2 separate regions of the Homo sapiens genome follow, and region 2 is linked to region 1. The links come from fine-mapping of genetic effects on gene expression. A gene starts in region 1. The other region holds a variant in brackets. All regions are shown on one strand. Distances are from middle to middle. Region 1 holds the start of MRPS22 (mitochondrial ribosomal protein S22). Region 2 holds the start of LOC124906290 (a long non-coding RNA gene).

What was found. PIP is the estimated chance that this variant, and not a neighbour inherited with it, causes the effect.
Region 2: its variant is fine-mapped to the expression of MRPS22 in fibroblasts (GTEx, PIP above 0.99). The same link has a PIP of 0.9 or more in hippocampus, spinal cord and substantia nigra.

The regions. Positions count from the first base shown.
Region 1 is chr3:139,336,663-139,348,826 of GRCh38, reverse strand. MRPS22 (mitochondrial ribosomal protein S22) reads right to left here and starts at 4,807. Exons shown (of 8, transcript NM_020191.4): 1 at 4,629-4,807; 2 at 1,783-1,949; 3 at 503-667. The coding sequence starts at 4,800. It overlaps LOC124909439, which reads left to right and starts at 7,954. Exons shown (of 2, transcript XM_047449421.1): 1 at 7,954-8,257. The coding sequence starts at 8,129. RefSeq lists enhancers at 4,200-4,319, 4,330-4,429, 4,406-4,700, 4,660-4,749.
Region 2 is chr3:139,275,108-139,287,271 of GRCh38, reverse strand. LOC124906290 (a long non-coding RNA gene) reads right to left here and starts at 5,669. Exons shown (of 2, transcript XR_007096115.1): 1 at 5,437-5,669; 2 at 1-4,741. RefSeq lists a silencer at 3,717-3,908. The variant G/C (reference allele first, on the strand shown) is at 5,656.

The DNA.
Region 1 (12,164 bases):
ATGCCTGAAAATTATCTGAGAAACATCTGTCATTCTTACTGAAAATTCTGGAAAGCGAAAATCCTTTATGATGCCTGAGTTTCTTGGCATCATCAAGGAATTTATAAGACAGAAACATTCTATCTTCTCAAAAAGCTTCAGCTAAAGAAATCCATCTAACTTAGGCGAAAAGAGTCTCCTGCTTCCATTGCCTTGTAGATTTTTGTCCATTTGTGGTTTGGGATGGGTTTCTGTCTGTATCTGTGTACTCCTTGTTCTGCCTCAGCACATCTGGAATCTGGAAAATACTGTGCCTATTATCTGCTGAGAAATGGTAACACCATGATGTGGGGCTGGTCTGCATTTCTCATCCCTCATATAGTATATCTTCCAGAAGGGTCTCACCCAGTCAGAGGAAATCTGGTTTGGACGCATCAGAGACAGCCAGGTCACATCATCTCTCAAGCCCTTCTCCACATAGTATTTCAAAGAAAGATCATTTTGCGATTAGACATATACTCACCCGGTGTGGTATGCTATATGATATATCAGTAAACACATATTTGGTTGTTTCTGTTCCTTCCAAAATCTTATCTTCAGCTAACACATCATTTATTGGTACTCGCTCTTCCAGAACTGGTGGCATTTTTAATCGTACTTTAGCTGCCTCAACTGCCTGTCTTGTAGCCTAATGAAAGAAAATATTTATTAAGGAAAGCCACAAGGTTACATAATATAAGGATCATCTGACAAAAGCACATACTAATAAAAAATGCAAAAACCTGCATAGAAAAGAAGGTGTAGCCACAAATCAGTGAGTAAAAAGCCAAACCTGGACTTGTGAGCCCTGGCCTTTGCCTCTGCGATGTGGCTGAGACCACCAGCTATAGACTCAACCGTTATCAAAACCACAAAGGCATGCTCTGAGACAAAGCCAGGCTACAAAAGCTGCTTGAAACAGAATAAAAGAATGCAGTTTTGGGGTGCTTACTATGTGCCAGATAGTGTTCAAACAGTCTAAATGTATTTGGCTGATTTAATGGCCTCAATTACCTTATGAGTTAGGTGCAATTGTTATCATCTCCATTTTACAGAAGAAAAAACAGAGGCATACAGATGTTAAGTAAATTGCTAGAAAATTGCAACACTGGTATTTGAACCTAGACAACCCAACTTCAAAGCCCATTCTCTTAACCATTGACTACATTGCTTCATGCCATACTGTTAAAAGCAGTTACCTCTAGGAGGTGAAAAGATGGACTTTTACTCTTCATGTAATCTACTACTGGAGAGAGATATATATATTTTGCTGACTATAAATTACTTTTGAATCAGAAAGACGAGTATTAATGCTTTACGTATTCATACATCAAAGTGTTTTCCACGCAGCACTCAGTACCCATGGTACTGAGGACACTGGTGCCTGGAAAACATGCTGTTTCCATGCAGGATCTCACAATCTCCCCAAAGCTTCAGCCCCAAGGCAGATCACAGTAGATGTTTCTCCAGGAAGGAAGCTGGAGCAGGCAGAAAAAAGGAGGGGTGCTCAGGCTGCCTTGAGAGGAGAGAGGATACTCTCTGAACACCCAGACCTGATCCATATGCCCTAGTCTGCTCAATTCCAGCCATGCTCCCTGCCCCTCTCTGGCAGCCTACTCACATTTCTTTTCTCAGTTCTATGCCTGGTATTACCTTTCACTAGTGCCTATGGAAGAATAGCTATAAGCATCTGGAGGGGCCTCTAGAAATGTTGTTTAAACCCTTAAAGAAAGGTATTCTAACAATATTCCTGCATTCACGTACCTCTTCCAACTGTGCCTGAGTCATTAGCTTATAGGTTGGTGGCTTCAGTTCTTGTATAGCTGGCTTAAAAGTCTTCTGCAAGTTCAAGCCTGTCATTTTCGTGAGTATGCTTTGAACTTCCTCATCCATAAATGTAGGTTTCTTGGTCTCTGGGCTACCAGATTCTGCTAAAATGGACTTTAGTAAATAAGAAGCTGACAAAAATGACAAGCTAACAAGACCTCTAAATAGAAAAGTCAGTTAACAATAAAAAGCATTAGCACAATGTCTACCTTGGCACTGCAAAATGCTAATACCTATGAGATGCATTCATTTATTTCTTCATTTAAGATTTACTGAGCACTCATTATGATGAGGAGATAGACTCGGTCTCTGCCAAAAGGACAGACTACTAGAGGAAGTAACAGTAATAAAGTAATTAATGTAATAACTGTAATGGTTGCTGCCACTTACAGAGCTGTCTCCTATATGGCAGGTATAACACACATTTTCAGGAATGCTTATAACCACTCACAAAATAGGTACTGATAAACCCAATTTTATAAATGAGGATGCTGAAGCCTATCCAAAGACAACTAGCTATTAAGTGATAGAGTCAAAATTTAAACCAAGGTTTGTCTGGTTCTGGATCCTAGATGGTTTCCAATTTATCATAGCGCTCCTCGGTATAAGTGGGAGGTGTGGGGAGACATAATGTGAGAGGTATGGTATACAGGAGAGGTACGGGGCTTGGGTGATTGCAGAGGAAGAAACTAAGCATAGCCTGGACTAGGGATGGGCATGACAGGGTCAAAGAAAGCGTCCCAAGAGCCTCATCACGGCAGAGAAAAAAGGGAGGGAAAGTCTAGGCTAAGAGATTGCAGCTAGGAAAGAGGCTTGGTTCACTGGACATGATACTGAAGAGGCCGTGTGTTATCATGGAAGAGCCTTTGACATAAGCAGAGAATCAAATCTTAGCTCAGCCTCATGCAGTTTGCTTATTGCTTTGCCTAACTTCTACTTCCATTTCCATTAGCAAAAAAGAAAGAAAAAGCCATTTGTTCCTAGTCACCTCTTCTTCTCCTATAAATGTTGGTATCCCTACAGATTCTGAACGATGTCCTTTTCTCCCTTCTCAGATTCTTACTCGATGATTTCTCCTATCCTGCCACGACTTCAATTACCTTTATATGCCAGAAACTCTAAAATCTGAATCTCCTGCCAAGATCACCTTCCATCCAATTACTCAACCTCTCTCATGTACTTGAATACTGCCAAGTCAGAACCCATCAACTTTCCCTTGTCTCAAACCTGCATTTTCTGTTCCCTATCTCAGCATCATCCAGTAGGCCATACAGGCCAGAAATCTTACAGCCATTCCTAAATTCTCCCTGATCCTCCAGATCTAGCCAATAGCAGTAGTAATAACAACAACAGTAATCAAATAGCTGTAGTAATAATAACAGTAATTATAAGAGCTACCATTTATTAGCTATTTACTACATGCCAATACTGACTGAGCTAAGTACTTTACACATTCAGCCCATTTAATACTCACAACAACCCATGAGGTAAACACGAAGATTATCCCAATTTTACAAAAAAAAAAAAAAAACAAAAAAAAAAACACCACTGGCAGAGAACATACTGATTGTTTGCCTTCATAAATCTCATTTTAATCCTCCATTTCCCACTGCCACTACTCTAGTCAAGGCTATCCTCATCTCTTGCATCAGCCTCCCTTTCTCCATTCTGGCCCCACTACAGATCATTCTCCACAGAGCAACCAGAGTAATCTCTTTAAAATGTAATCAAGATTACTCCCAAGCTTAAAATTCACGAATGGCTTCCAACCTCATTTAGAAAAAAAGTTAAGGTGGTCTGCTTACCTACACTATGTCTCTCACTAAGTGATGTGCTCTATGAAGACCAGACCTTGTCTTATACTCATCTCTGGCACCCAGGGTTCCTCAGGGTATCCAGCACACAGCAAGTGCTCAGCACTACTCTCTCCTCAGTCTCACCCATTCACTCACCTTTAGTTACCATTTTTACTCCGATGTTCCTCACTTTATATTTAACTCCATACTAAACAGTTGACTCTTAAAGTCACCTCAAATTTAATGTGTCCCAAATAGGTTTAATTCCGCCTCCTTTCCCATCTCCTGATCTCATCTACTCCTGCACTACCCCCGCCCCCAAAATAACGGTTCCAACAATTAATTAATCTTCTTCATCTTGGTGTAAATGGGACAACCCTCTATTCCAATCAAAAACTTAAGAAACAATCTTAATTTGTCCCTTTAAACTCATATCCAAAGCCTTAATCAAGCCTTATCAATCCTACCTCCAAAATGGGTTCCCAAATATCTGTGCTCAGTCTCATTTCTGGACATCTGCTACTGTCCCCTATGCTTGAGAAGCTTCTTGCTTTCTCCTTAGCATGGCTAACCAGATCTCAGCTTTGGTCATATTTGCCAGGAACCCTTCCCTGACCTTCCAACCTAGTTTGAGTGCCTCTCCTGTGTGCGTCCCCTATAACAACCCGGGTCACACTGCACTGCCAATTCCCCATGGACATGAGTTCCCACAGGGAAATGTCTGTGTCAGTCTTAGTTTGCCATATCCCACAGAGCTTAGCACAGTGCTCTGCACGGAGCGGAACTCAGGCACTGTAGTTGAGTGAGTGAACGAATGAACAGATATGCAGGTGATGACAAACTCTACAGGTACAGAAGGAAGACAGCTGAATCTGAGGAAGCGCTAGGATACGTGTCGCGGGGGCTATCGCGTGGTTTTCGCCTGCCAGAAACAGGATCTACGTCTCCCAGAAGAACGCCCCAGCGAAAGTCCGGAAGGTCACTTACCGGCCTCGGAGCTGAACCGGCGGCGTGGCAGCCCCATCTCGAAAGAGCAAGGTAGCGGTTGGAGCAGGCCACCGTGCCAGGGCTGGATTCGAGCCCGGAAACAGACCCGTTCCACGCCCGGAGAACTCCTCAAGAGGCTCCACAGCAATACAGTTGTTCCGAGGGGCGCCATGATTATCAGAAGCCACTTGCGCCGGAAGTGGTTGGGAGGGATTCCGAGTCACACCCAGTTCTTGCAGCACTCTGGGAAATGTAGTCTAGTTAAAGGCGGAAAGGGCCGGAAGTCTTCCGGGCCCTTATAGATTGTTTCTTCTAAACTACTTATTCACAAGTAGACGGTGTTTATGTCCTTCCCTATGCATAAAGTTAAAACTTACACCTTTTTCCCTATATGCTCTTTTTCCTACCCGTTTCCATCGTTCTAAATAACAAATTTCCGGCCAGGCGCCGTGGCTCACGCCTGTAATCCCAGCAGTCTGGGAGGCCAAGGCGGGCGGATCACCTGAGGTCAGGAGTTCGAGATTAGCCTGGCCAACATGGTGAAACCCCCGTCTCTACTAAAAATATAAAAATTAGCCAAGCATGGTGGCGGGCGCCTGTACCAGGAGAATCGCTTGAACCGAGGAGGCAAAGGTTGCATTGAGCCAAGATCGTGCCATTGCACTCCAGCCTGAGCAACAAAGCAAGACTCCATCTCAAATAAACAAACAAACAAACACTCTAGCCTGGGTGACAGAGTGAGACTCTTGTCTCAAATAAATACATAATTTATGTATTCCACTTCCTGCCCAAACCTTCTCCCCCATCCTCAGGTTTAAATCCAACTACTTCTTAAATTTCTCCATCCACACTGCTCACATGCACCCTAAATCTAACTCCTGACTCCAAGCCCTGATTACCACCACCACCACTGCCACTGCCAATTCATACACCTGATTCTCTGTCTCAACACTTATTCCTTTCCTTTATAGCCCATTTTATAATCTGTTATTTTGCTCTTTATCTGCTTATTTCTTTTTCTCACCCCATGAACACAGTGACTCTACATATTTTATTGCAATATCACCTAGCCTAGTACATCTACGTGCACAGCAAACTTTTGTTGAATAAATGAATGAATGATTAAATGATTCTTTACATTTTTTCCAGCTATCCAGGATGTGCAGGTCTTATCCTTCTCTAGACTATAGATTGGTGCCTGTGCTAAGCACTTATCCCAAGGCCTGGGAAAACAGGGTGTTAGTAAACTCTTGTTTGACTTAGCTGGATGAATAGACTCACCTTCCAGCCTCAGCTATTTTCCCCCAACTTAGCATTAATATTAACAGTGCTGTTTATGAACTCATTCCCTATTTGGGAGGGGAAGGGAGAGCACTAGGCTTGGTGCCTATTTAGGCAAGTCTGCTGCCCTGCACTTCCCAATGCTTACACCTACATGATAGCAGGTGTCAGAGACTAGTGGCAGGATGAATGCAGGTGTCTCCCAGCCCATGCCTTTTCTCTGAAAATGAACCCTCTACTTTCTTCCCATAGCTGAGGGAGCAGGCCTCAGTGGCTATGTTTTTCCTGTAAACATCCTCCTGGACACAGCTGATTGGACACTTAGTGCAGGATGAATGAATCCATTGGCTGCTGTATTAGCATTAGTTTCCTGTGGCTGCTATAACAAACTACCACAAATATTATGGTTTAAAATAACAAAAATGTATTCTTTCACAATTCCGCATGAGAAATCTGAAATCAGTATTACTGAGCTGAAATCAAGGGAGCTCTGCTCCCCTTAGAGTCTATCTCTGGAGAAGAATCTGCCCCTTGTCTCTTCCAGTTTCTGATGACTGTAAACATTCCTTTGCCTGTGGCTGCATCATTTCAATCTCTGCCTCCATCTTCACATCAGCTTCTCTTCTTCTATTTGTGCCAAATCTTCCTCTGTTTTCTTCTTATAAGGATGTATGTGATTGCATAATCACTGACCCACCCTGATAATCCAAGATAATCCCCATTTTAAAATCTTTAACTTAATCACATCTGCAAAGACCATGTTTCCATATAAGGTAACATCCACAAGTTCCATGGATTAGAGTGCAGTTATACTTGGGAGGAAGTATGGGGGCATTCTTCAGCCTACCCCAGATGACCAGGCACCAAGCAGATTTTTTCTCAATAATTCAAACTATGAGACATAGAATAGTCGACGGTGGAAGCTTGAAGTGAATAACTAAGTATTTAGGGTTTGGGCTGAAGCAGCCTTTTTCAGCAATGTGCTCACTGATGAGTGAGCAGGGAAAAGCCACTCTGCAGAGAGAGGCAGGAAAATGGAGCAGATCCTCAGAAGCAGAGATGGGAGAATATGTACGGAGAGAGATGGAGAAAGGTGGTGTCTTGGCCAGAGAGCTTCCCACTTTCCTTTCAATGACCTCTTTTACTTGGGGTACAGTGAGTTTTACTGATATGGAGTAATGAAGATTCCTGGTTTAAGCTATAACCTCAGGCAGATGCCCACATCTTTCAGAGCCCCAGTACCTCACCTGCAAAATGGGCATAATGACAATACTTATCTTGCAAACTTTGAGAATAAAGTACTTTCAGGATCTGATGTCTGGTGTTTCATAAAGATGGTGTGAGAAGGTTGTGTGGTGGCAAGTCAATTACTTTCTTTTTTTCTTTTCCGTTTTTTTTTTTCTTTTGAGACAGGGTCTTTCTTACTTTGTCACCATGGCTGGAGTGCAGTAGCATGATCTCAGCTCACTGCAACCTCTGCCTCCTGGGCTCAAGCAATCCTCCCACCTTAGCCTCCCAAGTAGCTAGGACTACAGGTGCACACCACCATGCCCAGCTAATTTTTGTGTTGTCCAGGCTGGTCTTGAACTCCTGGGCTCAAGTGATCTGCCCGCCTCAGCCTACCAAAGTGCTGGAATTGCAGGCATGAGCCATGGCACCCAAGTCAGTTACTTTCTGAGGATGGTATTCAGAAGTACTCTGGTTGCAAGAAACAAATCTTTCCTGAGTAAAACTGAAATGGGAGTAATTGGAAGGATACTGAATATCTCACAGAATTCAAGAAAAAGCTCAACAGCCAAGCCTCAGGAAGGACTTGAAAGATGGCAGCTCCAAGAACCCCAGAGGCAGGAACTCAAGAGATCTCTCCAGGAGGTTGCAGTCCTAATGGCTTGGTTCCAACTCCCTGCCTTCCATCCAATCTAAGTTCCTGGTGAGAGAGGCTGATTGGCCTGGGTGGGGTTCTGTTCACCACTGGGGGTTGGGGAGGGTTGGCCCTCTGACTGACAGTCCCAAGGCTATCTGGCTGCAGCTACTGTTAGGATTCATTAGGTCATATCTTCACCAGCTCTGTGGAGCAAGCATGGTTTTCTATTATTTGTAAAACAAAAGTATAGTGATGCCTCAGTGGGGAGTGCCTTATCCCACTCTCAGTGATTTAACAGGGTCTGGACTTCTGTTTTTTAAAAGATATATTTTATCCTAAGCTTTTAGAAGTCAAGATGGGGTTAGGGGATAAAAGTCAGGGAGAGGAATGGAGAGAGGAAGAACAGAGCCCAAGGAAGAAAGGTGACAGTCTGGACAACGCAAGAACCCCTGCGGTCTCCAGCAACCACACTCATGTGACTTCTGTAAGTCTTCAATTCCCTATCCTTGAGGCCTCCCAAAAGGTCCACATCCACCCCACTTTTGACTTCACCCAGAGTTTTTATTCTTCTGGCCCCTATTCAAAGTCCAAACCTCTTACATGTTCCTACAGAGACACAAATTCCATGGCCGAAATTCCCCTTTGTGTGCTGAGAAGGGACTGGTAGCAAGGAAAAAACCAAAGATCCAGTAACGAGAAGGGACAAGTGATGTTGTGGATCCCTGAGGAAGCTTCAGGGGATGAAGATTCTAAGTGGAGGCATTGGTAGTAGATGCAAAGGAGCCTTTGCACCAGTAGGCCAGGAGTTAAGGATGGTTAGAGTGGATACGTTTTGGGGAGAGAATCAGAGAGCCTTCCTGCCTCTCTGTCCCTTTTTCTGAGCACTGGAAAGCAAAATCATTGGTCGAGAAGAGGTACGGTTGTGTTGGGAGCTATAGGAATGAGCAGTTTGAAGTATCTGCTGGGGCTGGGCACATGGCTGGGATGCAACCTGCTGAGCAGTGGGACAGTCAGTAGCAGTGCAGAAGAGGAGATAATTCCAGAGAAAGAGGGGAAACATCAGAAGACATTCCTGGAAGCCTGTGTGAGGGTTTGCCTGAGCAAAAAAACCTTGAACAATGGTAGGAATGGTTGAAGATGTGATGGCCCAAGCCCCTTCCCTCTCACTCAGAGTGCACTGTCTTCTCATCAGCCCTGTTAGTCTTCATGGCAAATTAGTGAGGCAGACAGGGCAGGCACTGATATTCCCATCTTTTATATGCATAAACTGAGGCTCTGAAGTTATGGGTCTTGCGCATGACCACCCAATTTATTCCATGCAGTGACAAGGCTGAACTCTGAGGTACCTGGCAGCTCTTATGGTGGAAAAGCTCTGTTCTACATGTGTTCTATGGGGTGAAGAAAAACATTGACACTTCCAGAAATTACATAGACTGACTTCTGAGCCAGAATATGGCCCAAAAGAGAGAAGGAGGGAGACTGTCCTCCACCACAAGCCAGTGGGGGCGGATGAGTCAGTTCCTCTAACCCTGGAGTTATCAGTTTATCTCCAATTTTCCACGTGACACTCTGTCCTTTTTCTTCTGATAGCATCCACTGAACTACAATTCTACACCAAACTGAACACTTGAAACAGAAAATGATTGCCAGGGGCCAAGGCTACATCAGTCTGTGATGACAGACAGACCCTCTGTCCTATAGCACAGGGACATAAATGTCAAAGGCACTAAGGCTGGCTGCTACTTGCCACCCCAGCTGCCCCCAAAGGGACTTGGGCCCAGAGCAGTGGCCCCATGACACAGCGATCATGGATATGTTTTGTAATAAATGGCACTTGGCTCCCCTGCTCCCAAGATCTGGCTGCTGTCAGGTTTGGTGTGGAACATTTTGTCTAAAGGACATGCTGGCCTGGGTTGAAAGTAATTCCCATCAGCTCAGAACTGGGTGGTCTGTCACTAGGTTATTTTTCAATTTGATCTGGACTCAGGAAGTCCCTCAGACTGAGAACTGGTATTTTCAAAGGTTAATAAGCCTGTCAGAAATTTCTTTCATGGGAAAATGTGATGTATCTGATTGCCCTGACTTGCATGCAGCTCCCCCAGGTCAGGGGCCTGGGCATAATTTCACTTGAGACTTAGGACTTCAGTGTTTTGAAGATTCTTGGGGCCTGGCTGGGAGAGGCTGGCAAAAGGATGTAGTGGTGGCTGTTTGCAGGAAGCCAGAGCCAGAAAGGGAAAATGTGTGTTCTTAGGACTAAGTGTGTGCCTCTGTGTATGTGCAACCACATATGTGTGTGCTCAGCTGTATGTGTCATGCAAGCGTGTATGTGCATAGGTGTGTGTGTTCAGGGGATACATGTGGATGCATTTGTGTATGTGTGTGGCCATTTTTGTATGCATGCAAATGTGTGTATTCAAATATGTGCATGTGCGTATGTGTACCCATGTGTGTGCAGGTACATTTGTATACATGTGGTTGAGTATATGCGTGTGTGTGTGTGTGTGGCCTTACATGGGTGTTCAGGTGGAAATACATGTGTTCACATGTGTTTATTGGCTTGGGAATGGGATACATTTAATGGTAGGAGCACAGGCTTTGGAATCAGACAGACATGGGTTCAAATACTAGCTCCGCAACTTATTAGCTATATGAGCCCATTTTACTCACCACCTGCTAGTTCCTCCTCTTTAAGATGGAATGATAACAACTTCCACATAGGACTGGGGTGAGGGTGAACAGACAGGAAGCAGATGGTGCTCTGGCACACAGTCAGTGGCCATCAAGTGGTAAATAGTATTATCACTATTACTATCATCATCTTCATCATTCTCATCCTCATCCTCATCATCATCATTCTTGTTCCATCTCATCTTATTCCTTATGAATGTTCAGTGGCATTCATTCTCCTCCCTTAGAAACTGTCCAGGGATGCAAACGTTCCAGGCTGAAATGAACTGACTTGACCTAGCAGTCCATAGAAATGAGTGATCAAACGAAGTCCCCTCACCCCTTGTGACTTTTGCTACTTTAGCAAATCACAATTTCCCCATCAGCTGAATTGTACCAGTAAACATCCTTGCTCAGTGAGTTTCCTTCTATGCTGGTAATTCTTGTAGGGATGAAAGTAATCAAACATTTGTTGACCACCTTCTGCACACTCAGACCTGAGACAAACCCTGTGGAAAATACGGAAAGAGAATACAGATATCCCGAACCTCAACAATTTCCCAGTGGAGTTTTGTTTTTTAAAATAAATAGGTTTATATTTTTATATAAATAAATAAATAGGTTTATTCAGGTATAATTGGCATACAACAAACTTCACACACTGAAAGCATATAATTTGATAAGTTTTGACGTATGTGTCTGCCATATAACCATAACCACAGTCAAGATAATGAAAATATCCATCACTCTGAAAACTTCCTCATACTCCTTGGTAGGTAATCCCTTCCTCCTGCTGTTCCCAAATAACTCTCTCCCCTGGAAGCCACTGCTTTCTTTCACTTTGGATAGTTTGCATTTTCTAGAATTTCATATAAAAGGCACCACAAGTTTATATTCTCTTTTGTCTGGCTTTTTGCACCTAATATAATTATTTTAAGATTCACTCATGGTGTCATGTGTATCAATAGTTTGTTCCTTTCCTTTCTACTGCTGAGTAGTATCTATCGTGGTTTATGGACCACAACTTGTTATCCTTTCATCTGTTGAGGGACTTTTGGGTTTTTCCCAGTCTTTGGTTATAACAAATAAAGCTCCTATGAACACTTGTGTACACGTCTTTGCACATATGTTTTCATTTCTCCTGGGTAAATATCTGGGAATGAATGGTTGACTGTGTTTAACTTTTTAAGAAACTCCCACATTTTTCTAAAGTAATTGTACCATTTTACATCTCCATCAACATATTATATGAGAGTATTGTTTCCTCAGCATCTTCGTCAACACTTAAAATAGTCATTCCTCTTAATGTTAGCCTTCTAATAAATGTGTTATGGTATCTCACTGTGGTTTTCAATTTCATTGGTCTAATGACTATTGATGTTGAGCATCTTTTCATGTGCTAATTTTCCATTCATTTGTCGATTCATCTATTCAAATCTTTTGCCTACTTTAGAAATCTAGTTGTTTGGTTTTTTATTTTTTAATTTCATGAATTCTTAAATATCAGAATATATATATGTATATTCTGGATACAAGTCCAATATTAAAATATGTTTTCAAACATTTTTCTCCCATTTGGTGGCTTACCTTTGTATTTTCTTTTTTTTTTTTTTTTTTTAATTATACTTTAAGTTTTAGGGTACATGTGCACATTGTGCAGGTTAGTTACATATGTATACATGTGCCATGCTGGTGCGCTGCACCCACTAACTCGTCATCTAGCA
Region 2 (12,164 bases), 62 kb after region 1:
TCCCAGCACCCACCTGTGTTAGCCTTTTATGGTTGTTCCCTAGAAATCTCCACCACCAAGCTCTGGGGTGAGGCCCTGAGTCCCAGACCCTGGCGTCCACACCCTGTCCCTATTTGACTCCCTCTTGGTCACCACGATTGCCTCTATTCTGCCTGCACCAGCCCTTCCCTACCCCCACAGCCGGCATGCTGGGGGGCCGGCCCCACCTCAGCCCTGCATCCAGCCTGAGTCCAGCTGGGCTGGACCCAACTCTGGAGTGGGAGACACAGGCACTTGACTTCAAAGCCCTGTCAGAGTGAGCCTGGTTTGCAGTGGAGGTCAAAGATAAACCAAGGAACAATTCGGCCAGAAAATGGGCTGTGAGGGGGAATGGGCGGAGGGAAGGGGGAAGGGGAGGGCAGCAGGGGGAGTGGGGTTCAGCTGTCCAGACCGCCAAGAAGGAAAGGCAACTGAAGCTTGTCTCTACAGACAGGAAGATGAGGAGCCCTCCTGCAACCAGGCCCCACCTAGGCACCCTTTGGTTAGGCAACCTGAGAAAGGGGTCTGGCCCCACCCTACCCCATCTCCACCCACTGCATGAGTTTGGATTGCATCTGTTCTGTCCTGATCCCTTGCATTTCCTCTCAATAGCAACGTGTGGTCAGAGCTGGGACAGACACTTGACTTTACTGACAAGCACCTTCTGGAGGCAACACAGTTGGGTGGAGTAGAGCAAGAGTCAGGTGTGACCCAGGTGTCTAGTACAGGTGCTGCCGTCTACACTGCATGGAGCTGCCTGTGCCACTCCCTGTCCTGCTGGGAACTTCAGGTGATGTCTGCATATGTCTTCCTGAGTGAGATCCACAGTTCCCGGCACTGCCATGGCCACACCTGTACCCCGGGCACTCCTCCCATTTATGCCACAGGTGTGCCCCTCGGGAGCACAGGAGTGGGGTGAAGGTCTGTGAGTTCCATTCTACACCAGAGCAGTGGGACAGAGGGTAGTGTGAGAGAACAATATGCTAGGGTGAGCCCCCAAAACCCATGGTGGATGGCTGGTGGGCATGCTGGGGAGGCCGCCTTGGACTCTGGGCTGCTGGAGACACTATGTGGAATGGGCTCTCCCCCAGGTATCAGCGGGGAGGGAGGTGTGCACACCATGTATCCGTGCCACTGTGTGCTCCGCATGTGCACACGTAGTATCTTGTATAACCCTTAGAGTCCTCTTTCAAGGTAGGTATTCATTTCTCCTTTTTACAAAGAGGAGAGAGGATGGGTGGGGCCCAGCATGTCACAGTTAGAAAGCAGCCACACAGGGATTAGTCGGGTTGAGCCCAAAGCCTCAGGGCCCCCATTAGCCTCTGCCATGGTGGAGAAGCAACAGAGCAGCCCCTGTGGGCAGCAGCTGTGATTCCTCCTGAGGGGCCACCTGCTCTGCCTGAGTCCTCATTGTGGGAAGGACTCTTGTGCCTGCACTGTCCTTGGCAGCCACACAGAAGCACTTGGATCTTTGGTCATCCACAAAGCCTGTACATGACCTCTACGTCCAAGATGAGCTGGTGAGGAGAGGTTGTTATCACCATTGCTCCCATTTTCAGGCAGGGAAAGCAGAGTTCAGGGAGGGGCCCTGCCCAGGTGTGCCCCAACGGGTAAGTGAGGAAGCTGGACTTGGGGCCCAGCTCATGTGGACAGGCACTGTCAGCTAGATGTGCTGAGATATCAGTGAGAGCAGAGGTCCCGAGGAGGGTGTGATGAGCATGTTTTAGTCCTCAGGGTGTTAACCAACATTACTTTAAATTAATGTAAACTTCATAGTGCAGAAGCATACATAATAAGATATGCATGTCCCCTCGACAATGCCAGTCACCTCCCCAGAGGTAACCACTATAGTAAAACGGCCAAGTCTCCATCCAGAGCTTTTCTATGTACTCACAAACACCTACAAGCACTTCTAGACTAGATTTTTGTTTTGTTTTGTTTTAGAGGCAGGGTCTCACTCTGTTGCCAGGGCTGGAGTGTAGTGGCAAGATCATAGCTCACTGCAGCCTTGACCTTCTGGACTCCTGGGCTCAAGCAATCCTCCTACCTCAGCCTCATGAGTAGCTGAGACTATAGGCACATGCCACTGCACCCATCTAACTTTCTTTTATTATTAATTTTTGTAGAGACGGGGGGTCTCACTTTGTTGCCCAGACTGGTCTTGAACTCCTGGCTTCAAGCAATCCTTCCACCTCGGCCTCCCAAAGTGCTGGGATTACAGACATGAGTCAAAGCAACTGGACAGATTTTCATTTTTAAAGAAATGTTCAATATTACATATATTGTGCTGTGACTCGCTTTTTTTTTTTTTTTTTTTTTTTTTTTTTGAGACGGAGTCTCACTCTGTTGCCAGGGCTGGAGTACAGTGGTGCAATCTCAGCTCACTGCAACCTCCACCTCCCAGGTTAAGCGATTCTCCTGCCTCAGCCTCCCAAGTAGCTGGGATTACAGGCGCCCGCCACTACACCCAGCTAATTTTTTGTATTTTTACTAGAGACGGGGTTTCACCATGTTGGCCAGGCTGGTCTCGAACTCCTGACCTCATGACCTGCCCGCCTCGGCCTCCCAAAGTGCTGGGATTACAGGCGTGAGCCACCGCGCCTGGCCAACTCACTTTTTTTATTTAATATTTCATGGGAATATTCCACATCAGTATATAAAGTTCATACCATATTCCTTTTCGGCAGCAGAGGCTATCCAAGAATAAAAGTCATGCAGTCTGATTACTCACAGAAGCTAGTGCTGAGCTATGGCCAGTTCCTATCCATCTGTAGGCTGAGGGAGGAGCCGCTGGCCCAGCTGCCTGTCAGACTGTCCCACATCTCAGGCAAGGCTGTGAGATCACCCCAGGCTTCCCTTAGGGTGATGCTGGCATTGGTGTCCTCCTGCCTGGCCCCACCCCCCATTCCCCAGGCTCCAAGTACCCTCGTGCTGGCTTGAGTCTCTCCAGTCCATTTCCACTGGCCCATGCTGGGGTATCTGAGGCCTAACGTGCTACCCTTTCTGGGAGTGTGGGCATCCTAAGAGGAGGCAGTGTCTTTACTCAAAGGAGCAAGGCCTGAATCAAGGCATAATGGCAGGAGAGGTGCAGAGACAGGCAGGGTGCAGAGGCCTGCTAAACTTCACGTGGTAGTGCAGATGCCCCACAGATCCTGCCTTCATGCTGGTCCAGCCTGTACCCCCTGTGTGAAGATGTCTGCTGCCCACTGGGTCAGGCTTAAGCAATCTGTATCAGTACACTCAAAGCCCTCCAATCTGGCCCAGTCTCCTGGCAGGCATCCTGGTCTCAAGGCCCCCGTTATCCTCCACAGGAAAGGGCTTTGATGCAAGGGGCCCTCCAGCACTGGCAGCTGTAGGCTCCAGGCTCACCCCTCATCTTTCTCTCCCTCTAGCTCCAAGATGCCATAGCTGAGCTCCCATACTTCACTGATACTCAACTGCTCTGCAGGCTCCCGTCTCTCTGTCATTGTCCTTGGTCCCCCCTCCACTTGGAATCCCCTTCCATCAACCTGTTGAAACTCTACCTGCACCCCGTCCTCTCTGGAGAATGGTCTCAATAGCCACCACCACTCTCCACCTCAGGCTCCCCTGACATCCAAGCTGTCTATGACAATCAGCACCCTCTGCCTGGCAGATCCTATGTCAACCCAGCTCCTGTCCACTCCACCAGACTGCAGGTCCTCAGGACAGGGACTGTGTCTTACTCCCACCCCCAAAGCCCAGGCAGGGCCTGGCACAGAGCAGGTTCCCAGTGGTTTCTCGCCCAGGTGGCTGCAGCCCCGGGCCCAACTCCTCCTTCACCAGCAGGAAGCACCTCCTTGGATCACAGGGAAGCCCTTACGCCACAGTTCAAGACTGTGCTGATCACAGTGAGGAAAGTACAGTGTGGCTGTTCACTGTGGTTTCTCTCCTTGGCTCCTAAACATTGACGAAGTATCTACTATGTGACAAACATCATGCTGGTTAAATGATCACTCACTTCAAAGAGTTTGCAGTCTAGTCAAGAAGCAGATAGTGTCCTGGTAGAGGAAAGCTGTGTGTGTGTGTGTGTGTGTGTGTGTGTGTGTGTGTGTGTGTGTGTGTGTGTGTGTGTGTGTTGAGGAGGGGGCTCTGAGAGCACAGCATAGAGAGTTGAAAAAGCCTTCTTGGAGGAGGTGAAATTTAACCTGAGTTTTGCTGAATAGAAGTTTTCCAGGAAGAAAAGGTTGGGGGAGGACATTCCAGGCAAGGGAACAACCTGTGCGAAGTCACAGAGACAAAGTGGAACTGCACAGGGAGCCTCCTGTCACAGCACTGCCCACTCTGGCTGTGACAGTCTCCCCTGCCCAGCCCAAGCATGCTGCTCGGGAATACTTGCCGAGTTATGCTGAACTGAGTTCCCTTCTGCTCTGCTGTTGCTGAGGGAAGGTTCCTGAAACGGAGAATGGGATGAGACTTCCCAACACTCTGACTGCTCCAGAGGCATTTTCCACTTCCAAATGTTGTCTCTGTGTGCCTGGGACAGCTCTTCTCAGGGGCACAGCAGGCCACATCTCCTGGCCAGGGTGCCCCCAGCTTGGCTCCATTTGGAGACTCAGGCCATTAGAAAAGAGGGCAGCAATTGAAGGGATGGGTGAAAGCAGCCAAGGCTCAATGTCTCAAGCCCTTCTGTCCATGTTCAGTCCTTCCTCTCACTTGCTGGGTGGCAGTGTCTGCATCATTTCCCCTCTCTCAGCCCTAGCTCCTGAAATTGCAATGAAGTTATTTCTGATTAAAGATCCCTACAGACACGATTGGAACAACAACTTGGTACACTGACAGACTTGTGCATCTTCTTAGCAGTCTGCATCCCCTGCTTCCCTGGAAGACATTCTGCCCCTCCCTCCATCATCTCCTCAAGGCAGGGCTGGGCAGGCACAAGGCTAACCGGCCACACATCAGGCAGTACTTCCTCTCTTCCCTTCCTTCTTCTCCTCCATGCTGCACAAAGTCTTTGACCTGGTTCTTCTCCCTCTGGGGAGGACCTTTCCAAGCACTCACATGCCCTCCTGGCACTTTCTCATGAGCCAGGTGACCTCTGAGAATTCTGCCATCTCATGCTACTCAGAACTGACCAGTGAACAGAGCAGGGAAACCAGTTAATTGCTTCAGAGGCCAAGGTGGTCAGAGGCCCTGGCGAAGATCTCAGACTACCTGGGTCCAGGCACACATCTGAGAGCTGTCCCAGACCTGCCTGCTATAGGCATTGCCCTGTGGCACCCACAGCCCCTGGGAAGAACAGGCACATGCACCTCTCCTGCCCTGGTTGCCAGAGATGCTGGCAAGAAACCCATCTGGAGTCGATGCTGCACACTCACAGCCAGCAGCATCTGCCAGTGGCGTGACCTGGCCCATATTTCGCCAGCAGTGAAGAAAAGAGAAAGCATCCCCCATCCTTACCCGCTCTAATTGCCTTCCTTCCGCCTGCAGGGAGGGAAATTGCCTCGTTCTGCCAGAACTTTGCCTCCAGGAGGCTTTCAGGAGAAAGTCTTCTTCCAGAAGAATGGCTTCCTTTGGCATCTGGCAGGGCGTGTGCAGTGCGTATCCTCAGCGTCAGAGGCAGAGTCAGTGCCGGCCATGGCAGGGGGCGGGGAGGTGTAATAAGCGGAGACAGCTGCC[G/C]CCTCTGTTGTAAGGCCAGCATTGAGGAGCCGTTGCATAGATAATTGGGGCGATGTCCTGGTACACTGAGGAGATCCACTTCCAGATGGCACTGAGGGACCACTTAGAACAATTAGCCAGGGGAGATGACTCCACCTGCTATTTTTAGAGGGTACCACATCTGGAGGTGGTATCTTTTGGCTGGAAAAGTCTGCACCAAAGGCAGAGGGATTTGCATAATCTTCCATGATCGACTCATCAAGATTTCTCCACCCATCAAGATGTTTTTAGCTTTTCAGATGACAAATCATTCTGGTGTTTTGTGCATGGCGCCTGGCCCTAGAGCAGCCTCCAGATTATCTTTTTAATCAGTGCTCAATGCCATACTGGAAGGAGAGGAGAGAGCCATGCAGTCTTGCTTCCTGTGGCCCAGTTTTCCAGCTCTGTCCATAGGAGGTGGTGCTGAGTGGCTGGGAACCAAGTCTCAGGCATGGCTGGGGTGCTTCTCTGGGCTCATGGATCTGTTTGCTGGGAATGCAGCTGAAATGTTGTCCCAGGATCCCCAGGCAGTAAGCTTCAGACAATGAGACCAAGGGGATATGGATTTTGGAGTCAGACAGATGTGAGCTCAAATGCCAGCCATTTGTTGTGGGCTTGGGTGAGCCACTTCACTCTGCTGTGCTTTAGCTCTCCAGCTTAAAACGGGAGGAGACCTACCTTGGAGAAGCAGAACTAAACACGCTGCAGGGGATGGTGTGGATTTTCACACAAGACCTCAGTAGACAAAGCTGTGCCTTTCTTTATTTCCCAGCATAGCTTTGCACTTGAATCTGGGTCCATTCATGGCTGGAAGCCCTTGGGCCGCTTTGCAGGAGATCCAGCCTCTTTCTTTCTTTCTCAATCAATTCTTGGTCAACTTAGGTCAATCTAACACTCCTTCCCTTTCTCTTCCTTTTTTTGTCCCCTATGAGATGGAAGTTCCAGGCATTAGAGGGATTGACCTAGGTCAATCTAACACTCCTTCCCTTTCTCTTCCTTTTTTTTGTCCCCTATGAGATGGAAGTTCCAGGCATTAGAGGCAGAGGCAACTGCCTCTCCCTCCAGTCAGCCCAGATGTCCCTTGCCTGGCCTTTGACCATTGGCCCCTGGCCACACTGTGACTCCCTGCTACCACATCTGCACATTTCCACTTCTCTGCTCACCAAGTCCATGCAGTCACTTGGTGTCCCTCTTGTTCTGTTGGAAGATGTCTCCAGATCTGCCTGCCCTTCTCTCAGTTATATCCTCACCCAGTGGGGCCCAGTAAATTCACAGACACTCCCCTACACTGTTTCAGAGGTTCTTGATGTCGCTGCCAGACATTTCTTCCCTTTCTTCCTTACTAGCCTGACAACCACCCCCCCCACCACACCTCTCTCCAGGAAGTGTTACCTGACCACAAGTTTACTCAAACCAATGGCCTTCCTCTGCAGCACAAGCAACGGGCCCAAGCTCCAACACTATGTCTGAGTGCCTGGACCGTCTGATGTGTTTTCTTACACTACCAGCTCACACTGGTAGATCTGGGTCCCCATTGGGAAGTCCTGAGAGTAGCTACAGTCCTCTCCTGCAGCCTGGCCAGGGCTCAGCCCCCAGCCCAGCCTGCACTATGCCATGCTGTGCTCCCCTGTGGCGGGGCAGGGTTGTTTCTTTGACTTTCCTACTCTCTGGTATTCTCTAAGCTTTATACAGTCAACACAGATCACTCTTTGCTCCTGAATGTTAAAGAATGTCTTTCTGATTTTTCTTAAAGTTAAAGCAGTCTTGGATGACGAGCTGTCCTTGAGCCCCCTTACCTAGAAGGTAGGATTGAGGTATGATGAAAAGTGTGGGCTTTAGCTCAAATTCTGACTCAGTTCCTTATGTTGACCTTGGATCATTTTTATTTCCCTCTTTAACTTCAGTGTCCTCAACTCTAGGTGGGAATAACAACCACACATCCCTCCCAGGACTGTGGGGCCCTCAGCATAGCACTCTGCTTGGAGTAACTGCTCAGAGGAGGGCTGTCACTATTATTGTCATCTTTGTCCCACTGACAGAGCCAAGTTGGGTGGACTCATTCCCAGGAGCATATGGCTTCTCACGCTCACCCCAGTCAAGCCCCTGGGCACTCTTCATCAGCAGGGCCACCCCATGGCAGGGGAGGCACCATTGTGATGAGAGGTAGCCCCCAGTTTCAGGAAATGGAAGATCTCAGGCTCCCGGGAGAAGTCAGATACCCCCACACTGCCACCATGGTTCACCACTGGAGCCGCTATGGAGAGGTGGCTCCTTGCCACCCCACATTCCCTTCATCTCCCATGCCTTCTTCCAACTGCCCAATCCTCATCAGCTCCCAACTCCCTTTCACCTCCCCAAATCCCTTCTATCTCTTTTTTTTTTTTTTTTTCCAAAACGGAGTCTCACTCTGTCGCCCAGGCTGGAGAGCAGTGGCGCGATCTCGGCTCACTGCAAGCTCCGCCTTCTAGGTTCACGCCATTCTTCTGCCTTAGCCTCCCGAGTAGCTGGGACTACAGGTGCCCACCACCACACCCAGCTAATTTTTTTGTATTTTTAGTAGAGATGGGGTTTCACCGTGTTAGCCAGGATGGTCTCAATCTCCTGACCTCATGATCTGCCCGTCTCAGCCTCCCAAAGTGCTGGGATTACAGGCATGAGCCACTGCGCCCAGCCATACCCCTTCTATCTCTTGCAAAGACAAACCCACTGTCTTAAAGTAGCCCATTTCATGTCCATCCAGAAATACATCTTTCCAATCCAGCCTAGAAAACAGCTGCAAACAAGGGAGAAGGCCACAAGAGAAGCCCTCAAAGGGCATTTTGGGTGTCCATGTAAGGACAGGGCTCAAGAGACCAAGGTGCCACGCAGAAACAGAAGCCTGGGGCTTCTGACATCAGGGCCAGCCCTGGTGCAGGTGTAAGTCCAGGAGTGCCTTCTCCCAGGCTGCCACAGCAGGAGCTTTCTGGGGGCAGATTTTCACATTGGTCAGAGGCAGCTTCCTGGAGCCTTAGGACCAGTGGTCATTGGCCTACAGGGTGGCAAAAGGCAGAGCCAGGCAGGAAGGGGGCAGTGGGAAGTGTACCCCACCCAGGCTGCTACCTATGGTGGGCACACAGCTGAGCCATCTCTGGGAGCCCAGCATCTCCCAAGTCATGGCCTGGCCTAGAATAGGAGGAAAGAAGGGGCTGGATTCTTACCTAAGCCAGCTGGAGCTGTGAAACATGGGAATGAGAAACTCAAAAGTAGACAACACAGAGCGAAGGTTCATTTAGTCAGGAGCTGGAATTTTCACACCAGCTCACATGATCTTACATTCACTCTGGAGGTGTGTAAGGTCTTCTGAGCCCTGTAATCAGATGGTAAATGTGAAGCTCAGAGACATCAGTGATTTGTACAATGTGTAGATGTATGATTTGGGGGAAGTGGCTTAACCTCTCTGGCCTTCAGCATCTCCCGTTAAAGCTCTTTCCTTGCAAGGCTCTTGCAAGGAAAAGAGAGGAAATACACATACAATGGTCAGCACTGTGCCCAGCCCGCAGAAGGTGCTATGTACATGGCCATAATCTTTATCAGTTCCAGGGAAGGTCCAATTTAGCCTGGTAGAGAAGAAAAACGGGGAATGTGGGCCCTCCTATGGGGCAGGGATGGCAGGGCTCACACTCCCCTTCGAGAAAAGAGACTTTGGCTAGGCATCGCTAGGGTTTCCCCTGCCCAAGAAGTCTTTAAAATTTATGCCATATCCCAGCCACTCCAAAAAGTGAACATGATTCTCATTTTATCAATTAGGAAATATATTAAGAGAGGTAAAATAACTTGCTAAATGTCACATAGCTGAGAAGCAATAGAACGGGCTTTAAAATTAGGTCTTCCTAATTTCAAATTTAAGTTCTTCCCAAACACCCTACTGCTTCCCAGAGCTCCAAAGCTGAATTCAGAGATAACTTCCAGCCACCTCACTTTAGCCACATTTCTTCAGGAACTCATAGCCTTTAACAAAAATATATTGTGAAATATGCCATACTTACAAAAGAATACTTTAATATAAGTATATAATACAAGGAGTAATGAAATTTATATGTACTTAAAAATAATGTGTCTTTGATGCAGTTTCACCAAAATGTATGTGGTTCTGAATTCCTACTTTTCTTGTTTATGATTTGTTATGCTTCTAACATCCAAGTTTTGGTGTCTTTTAACAATTCTGGGAAAATGTTAGCCATTATTTATTTGAATACTGCCTCTTCCCCATTCCCTCTATAAACATCTCCTTCTGGAATTCCAAGGACCTCCACACACTATGCTTCATGTCATAACCTTACTTTCTTCTTGTTCTTATCTTTATCTCTCTGACCTGCATACTGGATAATTTCTTAAGAATTATCAGTTTATTAATTTTCTCTTCAGCTGTGTCTAATCTGTTGTAAATTCATTTGCTGAATTTTTTAATTGTTATATACATTTTCCTAGTAGTTCCAGGTTTTTTACAAATCTGCATTTTTAAAAAGTGTCCTGTACTGTGTTCATACTTTTAAACATTCATTTCTTAGAACACACAGTTATTTTTCATGTCTGTTTATTTTAATATCTGAAGTTTTTGTAGATCTGATTCTACAGTCTATTGTTTCTGTTGGTTCTCACTCATGGTCCCTTATCTTCTGGTGTGATTTTATGATTCTTGACTGGAACTGAAATCCTCATTGGAACTTTACATCTGTGGGAAATCTTTGAGGCCTCAGCTGAACGTGCCATTTTGCAAAGATAATTTGTTTTTGTTTCTGCCAGTCACTTGTTGGGAAGCACCAACTTGGGACTCTGTTGAATTAAATTTTCTGCTTAAGAATTTCTGACAACGTATGAATTTGGATCATGTATCCATGTGAGAATCGACTTTTGGTTAAGTATTCTCAGGAGAATTAACTTTTTTCTACATGGGACCAAATTGTCCTTGCTCTCTTCTATGCAGCAGATTTATTTCTTAGTTACTTTTACATTGAAAGTGTAGCTATTGAGGCCCCAGCATTATGCAGGGGTCTTTTATTAGACAATCCACTTGGGCAGGCCCCAGGGCCCCATTATTTACCTATTTTCTCCCATTCCAGCTCAGCATCAACATGCAGGCTTAAAGTCACCAGGGGATGGTAGATCCTGGAACAAAACCGGCACTGTGCTCCATCATCCTGTGTTTACACTCTCCACGCAGTTTCAGTCTCTGTGACCCTATACTTTCTTGTCAATTCAGTCGTGTATTAAAATTTTTAAAATATTTTGTCTGATAGATCATTGTTTTCATTTGGAAAGTTGTTCAGGGTATTTAAGGCCCCTTGCTCCAGAAATGGAAGTCCCTGCACAGAGATTTTGGACAAAAATATAAAGTATTTCCTGCCTCAAAGCTAGATGCAAGCAAATTTAGACTGATGGTAAATATTTTTCTAAGATACTTTTTCTAAGATACCACTTTCCCTTTTCTATCCTCCTTCCAGTAATTTTCTCCATCCTTAAATATATTTGTTTCTCACTGTTGCTCTTCCCTTTCCCTCACTAGAAAAAAAAAAATAAACTCATGCTAAAGTGTTAATGACCAAAACCAACTTACCTCTACTCCTTAGTATCCTGTGTATCAGGAAACTTTAAAATTTTTCTTTTCTTTCAAGATTTACATTTTGAAAGGATCCTGGAGTTGATAGTTTGATTGAACGGAGTGACTCTCCGATTTTAAATTCTAGGATGCCCTTTCAGCCAGGGAAGAGCTTTCTCCAAATTGTCCCCAGACCAGACTGCTTAAAGGCCATTCCTTTGGTCCCTAGAGCCCACAATGTGTAAGGATGGTCAAGGAGTTCATTAGCTTCTTTGTTAGCTGCCCAGCCACACCCTCAGAGTTCCAAAAGCATCTCAGCCCCTCACCTGGCGGACCCACCAGGAGCTGTGCACATTAGCACACTAGATCTGGCCAAACCTGCCAGCGGGGTTTAGAAGCCTACACAGCTTATTCTTCTCTGCTGACTCTTACTAGTACTTCTCATCCTCCCTCCTGCTTCAGGGGAAATAGGGTCACTGATGGATGCAGAAAGAAAAATGGATTCCAGTGTTTTCAAGACAGAGAGCTTAACCCCAGTCTCTGATAAATACTTAAGGCACATTTCTGTGTGAGATCTTGGGAAAGCACACAAGCCCCTCACATAGGCTCTGACCCAGACAGAATCAGTGCCCCCAGATACCCCCGCCCACCCTTGTAGAGCATTGCCCTCTCTTTCATCCTGGTCACCTACCTATACTAGGCATACTCAGGGGCCTGGACAGCTGCCTCATCTGCTCCTTCCCCTTTGCGGGGTGGTTCAGGGATGTAATCTGGGCAGACTCTCAGTGGCAGCTTGAGAGACCTCAGGTAACATGTGCATAAAAGCTCTCTGAGACCCACTCTCTAGTTTAGGGTCCATTTCTCCCTGTTAGTGGGGTTAGGGGATACCAGGGGCTAGAAGGAGTAGACAGAGGTA